Homo sapiens: one gene and its partners. The protein of the gene in region 1 purifies or fractionates together with the protein of each later gene. This does not show direct contact. Each region holds a gene or a part of one and is shown in the gene's direction. Other genes may lie near its edges. The genes, in order: RBM26, SRFBP1 and CRCP.

The links.
Region 2: the proteins of RBM26 (region 1) and SRFBP1 purify together in Homo sapiens (co-immunoprecipitation; one large-scale study listed by IntAct). This does not show direct contact.
Region 3: the proteins of RBM26 (region 1) and CRCP fractionate together in Homo sapiens (co-fractionation; one large-scale study listed by BioGRID). This does not show direct contact.

Annotation. Positions count from the first base shown.
Region 1 is NC_000013.11:79,322,578-79,326,314, reverse strand, and holds part of RBM26 (RNA-binding protein 26), read left to right. Parts: intron 1-3,737. UniProt on the Homo sapiens protein: May be involved in the turnover of nuclear polyadenylated (pA+) RNA.
Region 2 is NC_000005.10:122,020,975-122,024,474, forward strand, and holds part of SRFBP1 (serum response factor-binding protein 1), read left to right. Parts: intron 1-1,395; coding exon 1,396-1,433; intron 1,434-3,500. UniProt on the Homo sapiens protein: May be involved in regulating transcriptional activation of cardiac genes during the aging process. May play a role in biosynthesis and/or processing of SLC2A4 in adipose cells.
Region 3 is NC_000007.14:66,135,179-66,138,915, forward strand, and holds part of CRCP (DNA-directed RNA polymerase III subunit RPC9), read left to right. Parts: intron 1-3,737. UniProt on the Homo sapiens protein: DNA-dependent RNA polymerase catalyzes the transcription of DNA into RNA using the four ribonucleoside triphosphates as substrates.

The DNA of each region.
Region 1 (3,737 bases):
ATGGAATTTTAAAGTACATGCATAACTCTTGAAGCACTGCCATAGCATACTTTAAAAAGTTATTTGCATTAATTATTCGTACTGTTTAAAAGCAGTACAAAGCAGATAATGTAGTACAATACAGTTCAGAAATAGACCTAAGTTTATACAATCATGTGCCACTTAAGAGGGATATGACCTGAAAAATGTGTTGTTAGACAATTTCATTGTTGTGTACACATCACAGAGTGTATTTACACAAACATAAATGATATAACCTACTACACACCTACACTCTATGGTATATAGCCCGTTGGTCTTAGGCTACGAAACTCTGGCATTGTGTTAACTATACTGAATACTGAGGCACTTGTAACACAATGGTAAGTATTTGTGTAGGCAAACATATCTAAACATAGAAAAGGTACAGTAAAAATAGGGTATAAAAGATAAAACATGGTATACCTGTATGGGGTACCTACCATGAATGGCATTTGCAGGACTGGAAATTGCTCTGGGTGAGTTAGTGAGTGAATGTAAAGGCCTAGAACATTACCATCGTATTTTATAAACTCGTACTTTAGACCTTATAAACACTGTACACTTAGGCTATACTAAGTTTATAAGAACATTTTATCTTTCTTTAATAATAAATTAACCTTAGTTTGCTCTAGCTTTTACTTTTAAACTTTACAATTTTTAAAAACTTTTTGACTCTTGTAACGCCACTTAGCATAAAACAGACACGTTGCACAGCTGTACAAAAATACTTTCTTTATATCCTTATTCAATAAGCTTTTGTCTATTTTTAACATTTTTTTATGTTTTACTTTTTAAACTTTTAATTAAAAACTAAGACACAAACACATACATTAGTCTATGTCTAAACATGGTCAGAATCATCAGTATCACCGTTTTCTACCTTTACGTCTTGTCCCACTGGAAAGTCTTGAGGGGCAGTAACACACACACAGCTGTCATAGGCAATGTGTGTATTATAGGCTGAGGCCTACGATAACAGTTCCTTCTTCTGAAATACCTCCTGAGGAAACTGCCTGAGGCTGTTTTATAATTAACTTAAAAAAAATTAGAGTACACTCTAAAATAATGATAAAGAGTATAGTATAGTAAATATGTAAACTAGTAACAGTCGTTTGCCACCATATTCAAGTATTATGCTGTACATAATTGTGCGTGCCATACTTTTATATGACTGGACTGGCAGCACAATCGGTTTGTTTACACCAGTATCACCATGTGAGTAATGTATTATGATAGTTATAAGGTCACTAAGCAATAGGAATTTTTCAGGTTTATTAAAATCTTAGGGGACCACTTTTGTATATAGTCATTGTTGACCAAAACATTGTTCTGTGGTGGCTGACTTTATGAGGATTTTAATGGATCACAAAGGAGTTGTTTTAAATCAAGGAATAAAACAAGTTATTCAGTAAATGATGTTGGGGCAATTGACTAGCTATTTGGAAAAAAGACAGCATTATGTCTTTTTTAAATATCCAAATAAATTAAATTGGATGAATTTTTTTTCTTTTTTTAATACATAAAACATTTAATACATGCTACAAAATTCTTTTTTTTAAATAGTAAAATCCTAGGGATTTAAAAAAAATAGTCTTAATATTGAGAGGGCTTTTTAAGGTATGGCACGATATTCATAAAGGAAAATATTGGTAAATTCCAGTACATGAAAAATTTAAAACTTGTTGATGACAAAAACAAAAGAACAACAACAACCCCTTTCTCTCCAATAAAAGGTGCATCATAAAATCAAAATCCAATCGGGGAAAATATTTTGCCCAAAATATCACCAAACTTCATTCAATTAGAAAAATACAAGCAGGCCAGATTGTGAAAAAAGTCAAACATTTCACTTCTAATAGAAAGTCACACAAGATGTACAAATACACAAGATTGTTCATATCTGTAGAAATTGCTTTAATTATGCTAAATATATAATATATATGGCCATTCAAGAAAAGTGACATTTATTGGTATGGACATCGAGAGATATTTATGAAAAGAATTGGGTTAATAATTTAACCATGAAGTTATAAACTAGTATGTTTCCGTATACATACCATACATATTTATATACAGAAGTTCTTTCAGTATGTGTGTAGAAAAATATATGTAGGATTTAACTCCGAATTCCTCACAGAATAGTGGTTATCTCTTAGGGCTAGGGATAATCATGGACTGCTTTTTTACATTACGTGGCCTGAAATTTTGAATCTTTGTAAAAAGTGAAATGGGTGGGTTACAGAAGGAATTGTTTAAACTTTAAAGATTTTATGTTGCAATTACCTGAAATATTGGTTTCTTGAACTTTTCTAATATAAAACAATAGTTTTATCAAAATGAAAGTAATTATGGAATATGTTTCTTATAACATCAGAAGTTCTTAGTTTTCCTGAGTAAATTTACATCTTTACAAAGCAAAAACTCAGTTCTTTCAAAAATTTACACAGCCTAATTCTCAAGTTTGTAATGGAGCAATGTTAATAAAAAGTTTGTAAATCATTTTGTAATTAAAGTTGAAACTTTAGAAAGTTGTAGCCTCATCTTATAGATTTGAGGAGCTGTGTGCTGAATATAGAGATGTGTAAAGTTAGATCATCAGAAATTTTTGTCAGTAACTTATTTTTGAAAATGTCAGTAACTCTTTTGCTTTTTAGGTGAATTTTTTTTAGCTGAATGTAAGGATGAGTTTTATGAGTAGGTATTTTGCATTAAACAGTTGGAATTCCTTATAGAATATGATACATTTTTATGTAACAGTGATAGCTTCAAAAAATTGCAAATTGTCCTGGAACTAAAATACATATAAGTACTTTTTAAAAAAATTCTAGTTGTATGACATTGTGACAAAAATTCTCTGAGCAGCATTTGAACAGGCATGAAATCTTTTAAATTTATCATAAATTTATATGTGCAGGTTTAAAATTTATACCTGGGGATTTTAATACCACACAACTTATGTCAAATATCATTGAATATGTAATTGTTTCTACATTTCACATTATGCTGTACTTTGAGATTGTATTATAAATCTTGTGTGAGTATAAGTTATTTGGCAATATGTTGCTAACACTGATTTACCTTAGTTCATGTTACTCTAATTTGAATGCAGTTTCCAAACCAGCCACTTAATATAGCAAGTACTTAGACATGACTATTTTTTAAGTTCACGTTTTATATTCAGTTATAAAAGTTTGGTAGGAAAAACTGTTTTTCAATAGAAGAGTTCAGAGGGGTTTTTTTTCCTTTCATTGAGACACTTATATTTTGTTTTAGTTTTATAATAAACATTTTATGGTAGTTGGTCATTTGATGTAATTTGAAAATAATATACTTTACACATGCAAAATTATTATTAAAGATTAATAATTATATACCATTTGTAAATGAACAGTAATTGAAATAAAATATATTTAGCATATTGATCCTAATTTAGACATTGATTCAGACATTAAAACTAGGATCTTGAAGTACCTTGGGATTGTCATCTTAAACAGCAGTTGTCATTGTGTTATAAACATGTAGACATATTTCTTTTAGTCAAATATTGGCCAGTAGTGAAATAGCTATATTTTATTATGAGAAATTATTCTTGTTTTCTTTTTAAAGGAATTTGCAATTACTAGTCTGATTGTAGGAGTAAATAACCATAAAAAGTAAAGTGTAAATTATAATAATAGTAAATTGAATAGTAAATAATCAAAAAGCAAATGGGCAGA
Region 2 (3,500 bases), on another chromosome or scaffold:
GCAATGCCACATTTGCCTAGTTTCATCAGAAAATGAGATGTTATAGCCAAATAATATGCCAGCTAATTTAAATTTTATTCCTTCACTTATCAAAGTTTTGAAACTTTGAAATCTTTTTTGATGAAAAACTTTTGAAAATGTTTCATGTATCTTTCTAAACAGAACTTTCTGAAAAGAATATGGTGTTTTTTCTTGATGATCCAGGACCATTATTGTAAACATCAGTCATTTTACTGTCTAGTACCATTTCAGTATATAAGGCTGCTTGCCCTTAAACTGAGTTTCTCCATACTGCTTTTTATTTGATGATGTTGCTGTCTCCATCTCTGTTGCTCACCACTTTTCATAGCTGTTCTGTTATAAAACAGTAAGTTTAACTTTATTTGTAATTCCAATTTGATAAAGGGTATCTTCACATTTTAGAGTGAAGGTTATGGTTAGCTAATTTCTTCAGTAACAGCTATAAACTGTTTTTGCATATATTTACAAGTCAGGGATAGTCTTTAATGAAATAGAAAAATGTGATGTAAAAATTTTTCAAAAATGTCACAGTATGGCAAAGACATAAAAACGTGTGGAGTGTTGAAATAATTAAAATATTTACTTATATTTTCCAAACTTGCCTCAAAAAGCTGCACTTTTTTCCACATTTGAAAATGGCACACCACTATCCCTTTACCACAAAATATAAATCTTTTTTTTTTTTTTTTTTTTTTTTTTGAGACGGAGTCTCACTCTATCACCCAGGCTGGAGTGCAGTGGTGTGATCTTGGCTCACTGTAACCTCTGCCTCCCAGGTTCAAGCAATTCTCCTGCCTCAGCCTCCTGAGTAGCTGGGATTATAGGCGCATGCCACCACGCCCGGCTAATTTTTGTTTTTTTTTTGTTTTGTTTTGTTTTCTAGTAGAGACGGGTTTCACCATATTGGCCCGGTTAGTGTCGAACTCCTGACCTTGTGATCCACCCTGCTCAGCCTCCCAAAGTGCTGGGATTACAGGCGTGACCCACCGTGCCCCGCCAAAATGTAAATCTTAATTTTTGTTATATGAGAGTCATTCTTCCTGTGAAAAGACTTTAGAAATTCTTTATATAGATAATCCCGAAGTGTAAAGGCAAGGTAACCAAGACAAGATATTTCCCATTACAAACAGAATTCTCTTTAAAGGTGGTGAGGGAAATAGGTCCTCATGTGTCTGTAGTAACACTGGATTCTAACAAACCTTTGTTTGATACAGCTACAACCTGGGACTTTCATAATTATTTTATTGTTTGCTGGTGTGACTAAGGAGTATAGTGGCCCTTTGAATTAGTTTTATCATCAATTTTGTTATGTTTTTTTCTTAAGATCAGAGGATTTATCTTTAAAAAGTCATAATGGTGTTTTTCTTCTTTTAGAAATTTCAAAGAACAGGCTCCAAAAACAAGATCCCTAGGTATGTATTCATAGTTGCCTGACCTTCATATGCAATTAAGCTATGTTTTACCAGAGTAAAAGAATGAGAAATTGTTGTTGCTTAATATAGCCTGAATGAATTATGTACCCACAGAAATGTTAACAGAGCATCTTACAATTATCAATATAATTTTTTGTTGTTGGTTTTCTTTTCTTCTGTGTCCTGCCAGAGGGAAAGATATAGACAAAATTTATCAGGAAATATTATGTCTATTTAACTTATCTCAAATTAAACCAACACTTTTTTTAAGTAAATTATGCAAGTTATATCTTAATTATTAGTGATCCTAAACGCTAATGCCATGCCGTTAAACATTGAATAACAAGTATATTACTTTCTTGGGCAAGAGTATAATCAGAATATTTTCAGATTAATTCGTAACAAATCTAAGTTTCATGTATTTGGGTAGAGTGACTTCTCACACAATCCTAGACTTTCACTAACTTAACATAGCAAAAATTCATTTCTCATTCACATCACAGTCCACTGTGATGAATTAGCAGAGAGGCTGTGTTCCACATAGTCATTCAAGGATCAGGCTTCTTCCATCTTTTGGCGTTTTCCTCCTCCAGGTTCCAAATATTCTCCATTTGCCAATAGAAGGGAATGGAGTACATGGAGAATTTTGCAGGTGTTTGTGAGCAAGGCCTGAAAGTAGCAGAAACCAGTTCTACTCACATATCATTAGCCAGAATTCAGTCACATGACCCCATCTAGCCACAGGGGAGCTAAGAAATGCAGTCTTACTATATATCTAGGAGAAAAGAGGAAGTGGAATTTCGTGAACACATAACTTTTTCTTCCAGTGACCAGACTTTCTATCACTGGATGGCCATTTCACTTTTCCTCCTACACAGAGCACACTTACCTCCTTCCCAAGGCAGCCAACCCAAAGTCACATCCAGTCACTGCATCTAGCTCAAAGTCCAGGATCACTGGTCATGGAGTATTTTCCATCAAATCTCATGGATGAGATTCTTCAAAGTCTGGTGACCTTTGTACCAAAAAGAAATTCATACCATGATATACCATGTATCGAGTAGCAGAACAGGGACAAAGTAATGACAATAAAAACTCTTGATAGCTTAAGGAAAAAATGGAAGGCACACAACAGGTCTACTATCTGAAATTCTGCTGAGCAAAGATTATGAAGGCTCTGAGAGGAACTTCTTTATCCATTGTTCTTCATGGTCCGTGTCTAGGGAGGGTCTTTGTTTCGTGGCCACATCTGAGGTGGGTATTTAACATGATCTCTTTGGAGTTTGCCCCAAGTCACTGGTACAAATATAAAATGATGAAGATTGTACAAAGTTCAGCAGAGGTTTTTTCCATCCCAGGCTTGTGATTTCTTTCACTATACACCTCCTCAAAAACTCAGTGGATTTCTGACCTCTGTTTCCTTCAGTCCGTCTGTGGGCTAGTTACCGTACTGAAAATTCTTTCTTTGAGCTAGTTCTCAAACTTGTCTTATTTGTTTGTGTTTTGTTTTATTTTTCCCACTTCCCGCTCTCATTCAGCATCTACTGCATTGAAAATTAATCAGATTTGGATGGGAGTGCCATACATTTAGTCTTATCTCTGCTCTAGGGCTGAGTTGCTGTGGGCAACTTTTCTTAGACTTACAGGTTACTGTTTGGGAGTCAAAGGCTTTTCTAAACCTTAAGTTCCCAAATATCTAGATTCTTTTGTTCTCTCTGTTCTCTTTTGTGTAGTGCATTGTCAAGGACAGCCAGTAATACGCTGATCTTTTTATTCTTTCCAGCCAGTTACCTTTGTACAGCAAACTCCATAGGCTTGTGGCCTGCTTGCCAAGTTATCACTGACAACAGTTTTACCTATTTCTTTGGCACATGGGTTGCTTACTTCTCATTCTCAGTTATCTGTTTCCTTGCTACCCACCACTGAACTGCTAAGCCAATGCCAAATTTTTATGTTATTGTAATGGTACTTCAGAGTACCAATTTTAGTATTATTCATAGTAGACTACCTGCTAAATCTCAGTGGTTTGTCATCTATCAGTCTGTCTGCTTCTAGGAATTTTATTCT
Region 3 (3,737 bases), on another chromosome or scaffold:
AAGCCAAAATTGGTAGAACCAATAGTTCTACTCTTAAAGCAGGACCTCTCTAGCCTCCCATTATCTAGATGAAAATGAGCTTACTAATTTAGAAACACAAGTGAGTATATTCTAGGCTAACCAAAGTAATTCTTCTCTAATTATTGAGAACATTAAATGTCACGAGCTGATCTCAAAATATTAGTAAAATAAGTTAAATTGTTTTGAAAGGAAGGAAATGTGATAATGTAGAAATGGGGAAAAAACAAGACAGAATTGAAATATTATATTAATCAAGTACTAACCCTGGTTTGAATGGGTAAATGCAGAAGACCTTTCTTCCTTCTTTTTTTATTTATTTATCTTTTTTTTCAAAATTATACTTTAAGTTCTAGGGTACATGTGCACAACGTGCAAGTTTGTTACATATGTATACATGTGCCATGAGGAACAAATCTTAATGGGGTTTAAAAATCTTTTCTTGGCCAGGTGTGGCGGCTCATGCCTGTAATCCCAGCACTTTGGGAGGCTGAGGTGGGTGGATCACCTGAGGTTGGGAGTTCTAACCAGCCTGACCAACATGGAGAAACCCCATCTCTACTAAAAATACAAAATTAGCTGGGCGTGCTGGCACATGCCTGTAATCCCAACTACTAGGGAGGCTGAGGCAGGAGAATCGCTTGAACCTGGGAGACGGAGGTTGCGGTGAGCCAAGATCGCGCCCTTGCGCTCCAGCCTGGACAACAAGAGCAAAACTCTGTCTCAAAAAAAAAAAAAAATCTTTTCTTGGAGTCCCAGTTTGTATGACATATCGCATCAACCCCACTCCCAGAATTCAGACCAAATTGGATGAAAAGTAGGGTTGACAAGTTAAAGTACTTTTTATAAAGTTGATCAGTGAAGTCTTTTGACATTTGTGTTTGCTTGAGGCAAAAGTGGCTTGATCATCTTCTGTGAGTTCTTGTAGTTTCCAGTTCCTTTTCTTGGTCTGGAATGAGTTCAACCTTTTAAAATTGAAAACGTCATACATCAAGAGTTTACATGAGAAGAAAACTAGCCCGTTTTTTTTTTATTGGTTTGTTTTTTTTTGAGATGGAGTTTCACTCTTGTGAGTTCATGCTGGAGTGCAATGGTGCAATCTCGGCTCACCGCAACCTCTGCCTTCGGGTTCAAGTGATTCCTCCTGCCTCAGCCTCCACAGTAGCTGGGATTACAGGCATCTGCCACCACACCTGGCTAGTTTTGTATTTTTAGTAGAGACGTGGTTTCTCCATGTTGATCAGGCTGGTCTCGAACTCCCAACCTCAGGTGATCCATCCACCTCGACCTCTCAAAGTTCTGGGATTACAGGTGTGAGTCACCGTGCCTGGCCAATTTTGTATTTTTAGTAGAGATGGGGTTTCACTCTATTGGCCAGGCTGGTCTTGAACTCCTGACCTCAGGTGATCCTCCTGCTTTGGCTGCCCAAAGTGCTAGCATTTCAGGTGTGAGCCACCGTGCCTGGCCTATGTATACATTTTTGAATTGACTTGTTGATATCTGGAACAAATCCTGCTGAGATTCTGATTGGGATTGCCTTACATCTATAGGTCAGTTTTGGGGGAGAATTGACATCTTGACAATATTAATAATTCAAGATCGGACGGGCACGGTGGCTCACACCTATAATCCCAGCACTTTGGGAGGCTGAGGCAGGTGGATCACGAGGTCAGGAGTTCAAGACCATCCTGGCCAACATGGTGAAACCCCGTCTCTACTAAAAATACAAAAAATTAGCCGGGTGTGGTGACGGGGGCGCCTGTAGTCCCAGCTACTCGGGAGGCTGAGGCAGGAGAATCACTTGAACCTGGGAGATGGAGGTTGCAGTGAGCCGAGATTGCGCCACTGCACTCCAGCCTGGCGACAGAGCGAGACTGTCTCAAAAAAAAATTTAATAATAATAATAATTTAAGATCAGTCAAAGGTTAAAAAAAAACAACCCGCCAATACTGAACCTTCTAGTCCATGAAAACAGTGTAGCATACAGGTTCTGCACAAATTTTTTTAGATTTATACCTATTTCATAATTTTGCGTGCTATTGTAAATGGTGCTCATTTCTAGTTGTTGATTGCTGATATAGAAGTACAGCTGACTTTATATTGATCTTATGCCCTCCAGCCTTGATAAATCCACTTATTAGTTCTAGGAACTTTTTTAGTGTATTCTTTAGGATTTTCTGTGCAGAAAGTCGTGGTATTTGCAAACAGAGTTTTACTTCTTTCTCATCTGTATGGCTTTTCCTTCTTTTTCTTATTTCATTGCCCTGGCTGGGGCCTCCAGGATGATGTTGAGTAGGAGTGGTGAGAGCAGACATCCTCATCTTGTCCCTGATATTAAGGGAAAACAGTCAGTCCTTCACCATTAAGTATGATGCTAGTTTAGGTTTTCCATGAATGTCTTTTACCAGGTTTAGGAAGTTCAGATTGCTGAGATTGGATGTTGAATGTTGTCACTTGCTTTTTCTATATCTATAAAGCTAAAAAGATTTGTAGCCTTTTGGCTGTATCTTTTTGTTTATTTTTGTTTTTAGTAGTTACTGAAGGGATCCCTACTAGGTTACTAGTAGGGTTAATAATATGCATGCCTGACCATTTATAGTCCAGAGTTAATATTTTACCAGTTGGTGTATATAAGTCTCTTTACCTTCTTTTTGTGTTATGGTTGTATTTATAACATATAATCTACATACATTGAAACATATAATCTGCATACTATTAGTAGTGTTTTTACATTGACTTTCTGTATTCTTACATATTTTAAAGAACTTAAGAGAACAAAAATAGTCTTTTTGTCATCATTTCTTTTCCTCTCTATTCCTGAAGTGCCCTGCGTCCTTTTTATCATTTACTTCACCAGGAAGAACTGCCTTTGGCACTTTTCTGAGAACAGGTCTCTTGGCTACAAATTCTCTTATTTTCATTTAGCTGAGAATGTCATTATTTCCTTTCATTCCTGAAGGATAATTTCACTGGGTTGATTGATCTTTTCCTTCAGAACTTTTAAGATGTCATTTCAGTGACTTCTGGCTGTCACAGTTTTTGATTAGAAATCTGTGATCAGGCTGGATGCAGTGGCTCATGCCTATTATCTCAGCACTTTGGGAGGCTGAGGCGGGAAGATCACTTGAGGCCAGGAGTTTGAGACCAGCTTGGGCATCATTGTGAGACTCCATCTCTATATTTTGAAAAATAATTAATTAAAAAAAAATTTTAATCCGCTATCACTCTAACCCTAATGTGTCATTTTCCTCTGGCTGCTGTTAAGATTTTTTTTATCCCCCTCTACTCCTACTGCTTCACTTCACTAGCCTGGGCGCGGTGGCTCACGCCTGTAATCCCAGCACTTTGGGAGGCCGAGGCTGGCAGATCACGAGGTCAGGAGATCGAGACCATCCTGGCTAACACGGTGAAACCTCGTCTCTACTAAAAAAAAAAAAAAAAAAAAAAATCAGCTGGGCATGGTGGCGGGCGCCTGTAGTCCCAGCTACTCGGGAGGCTGAGATAGGAGAATGGCGTGAACCCGGGAGGCAGAGCTTGCAGTGAGCCAAGATGCGCCACTGCACTCCGGCCTGGGGGACAGAGCGAGACTCCGTCTCAAAAAAAAAAAAAAATTTAAATAAATTTCAAAAAAGATTTTCAAGTCTTTGGTCTTCAATAATTTGATAATGATATATTTCAGCTTTTTTTTCCCCAGTTTATTTTTGCTGAGCTTCTTGATT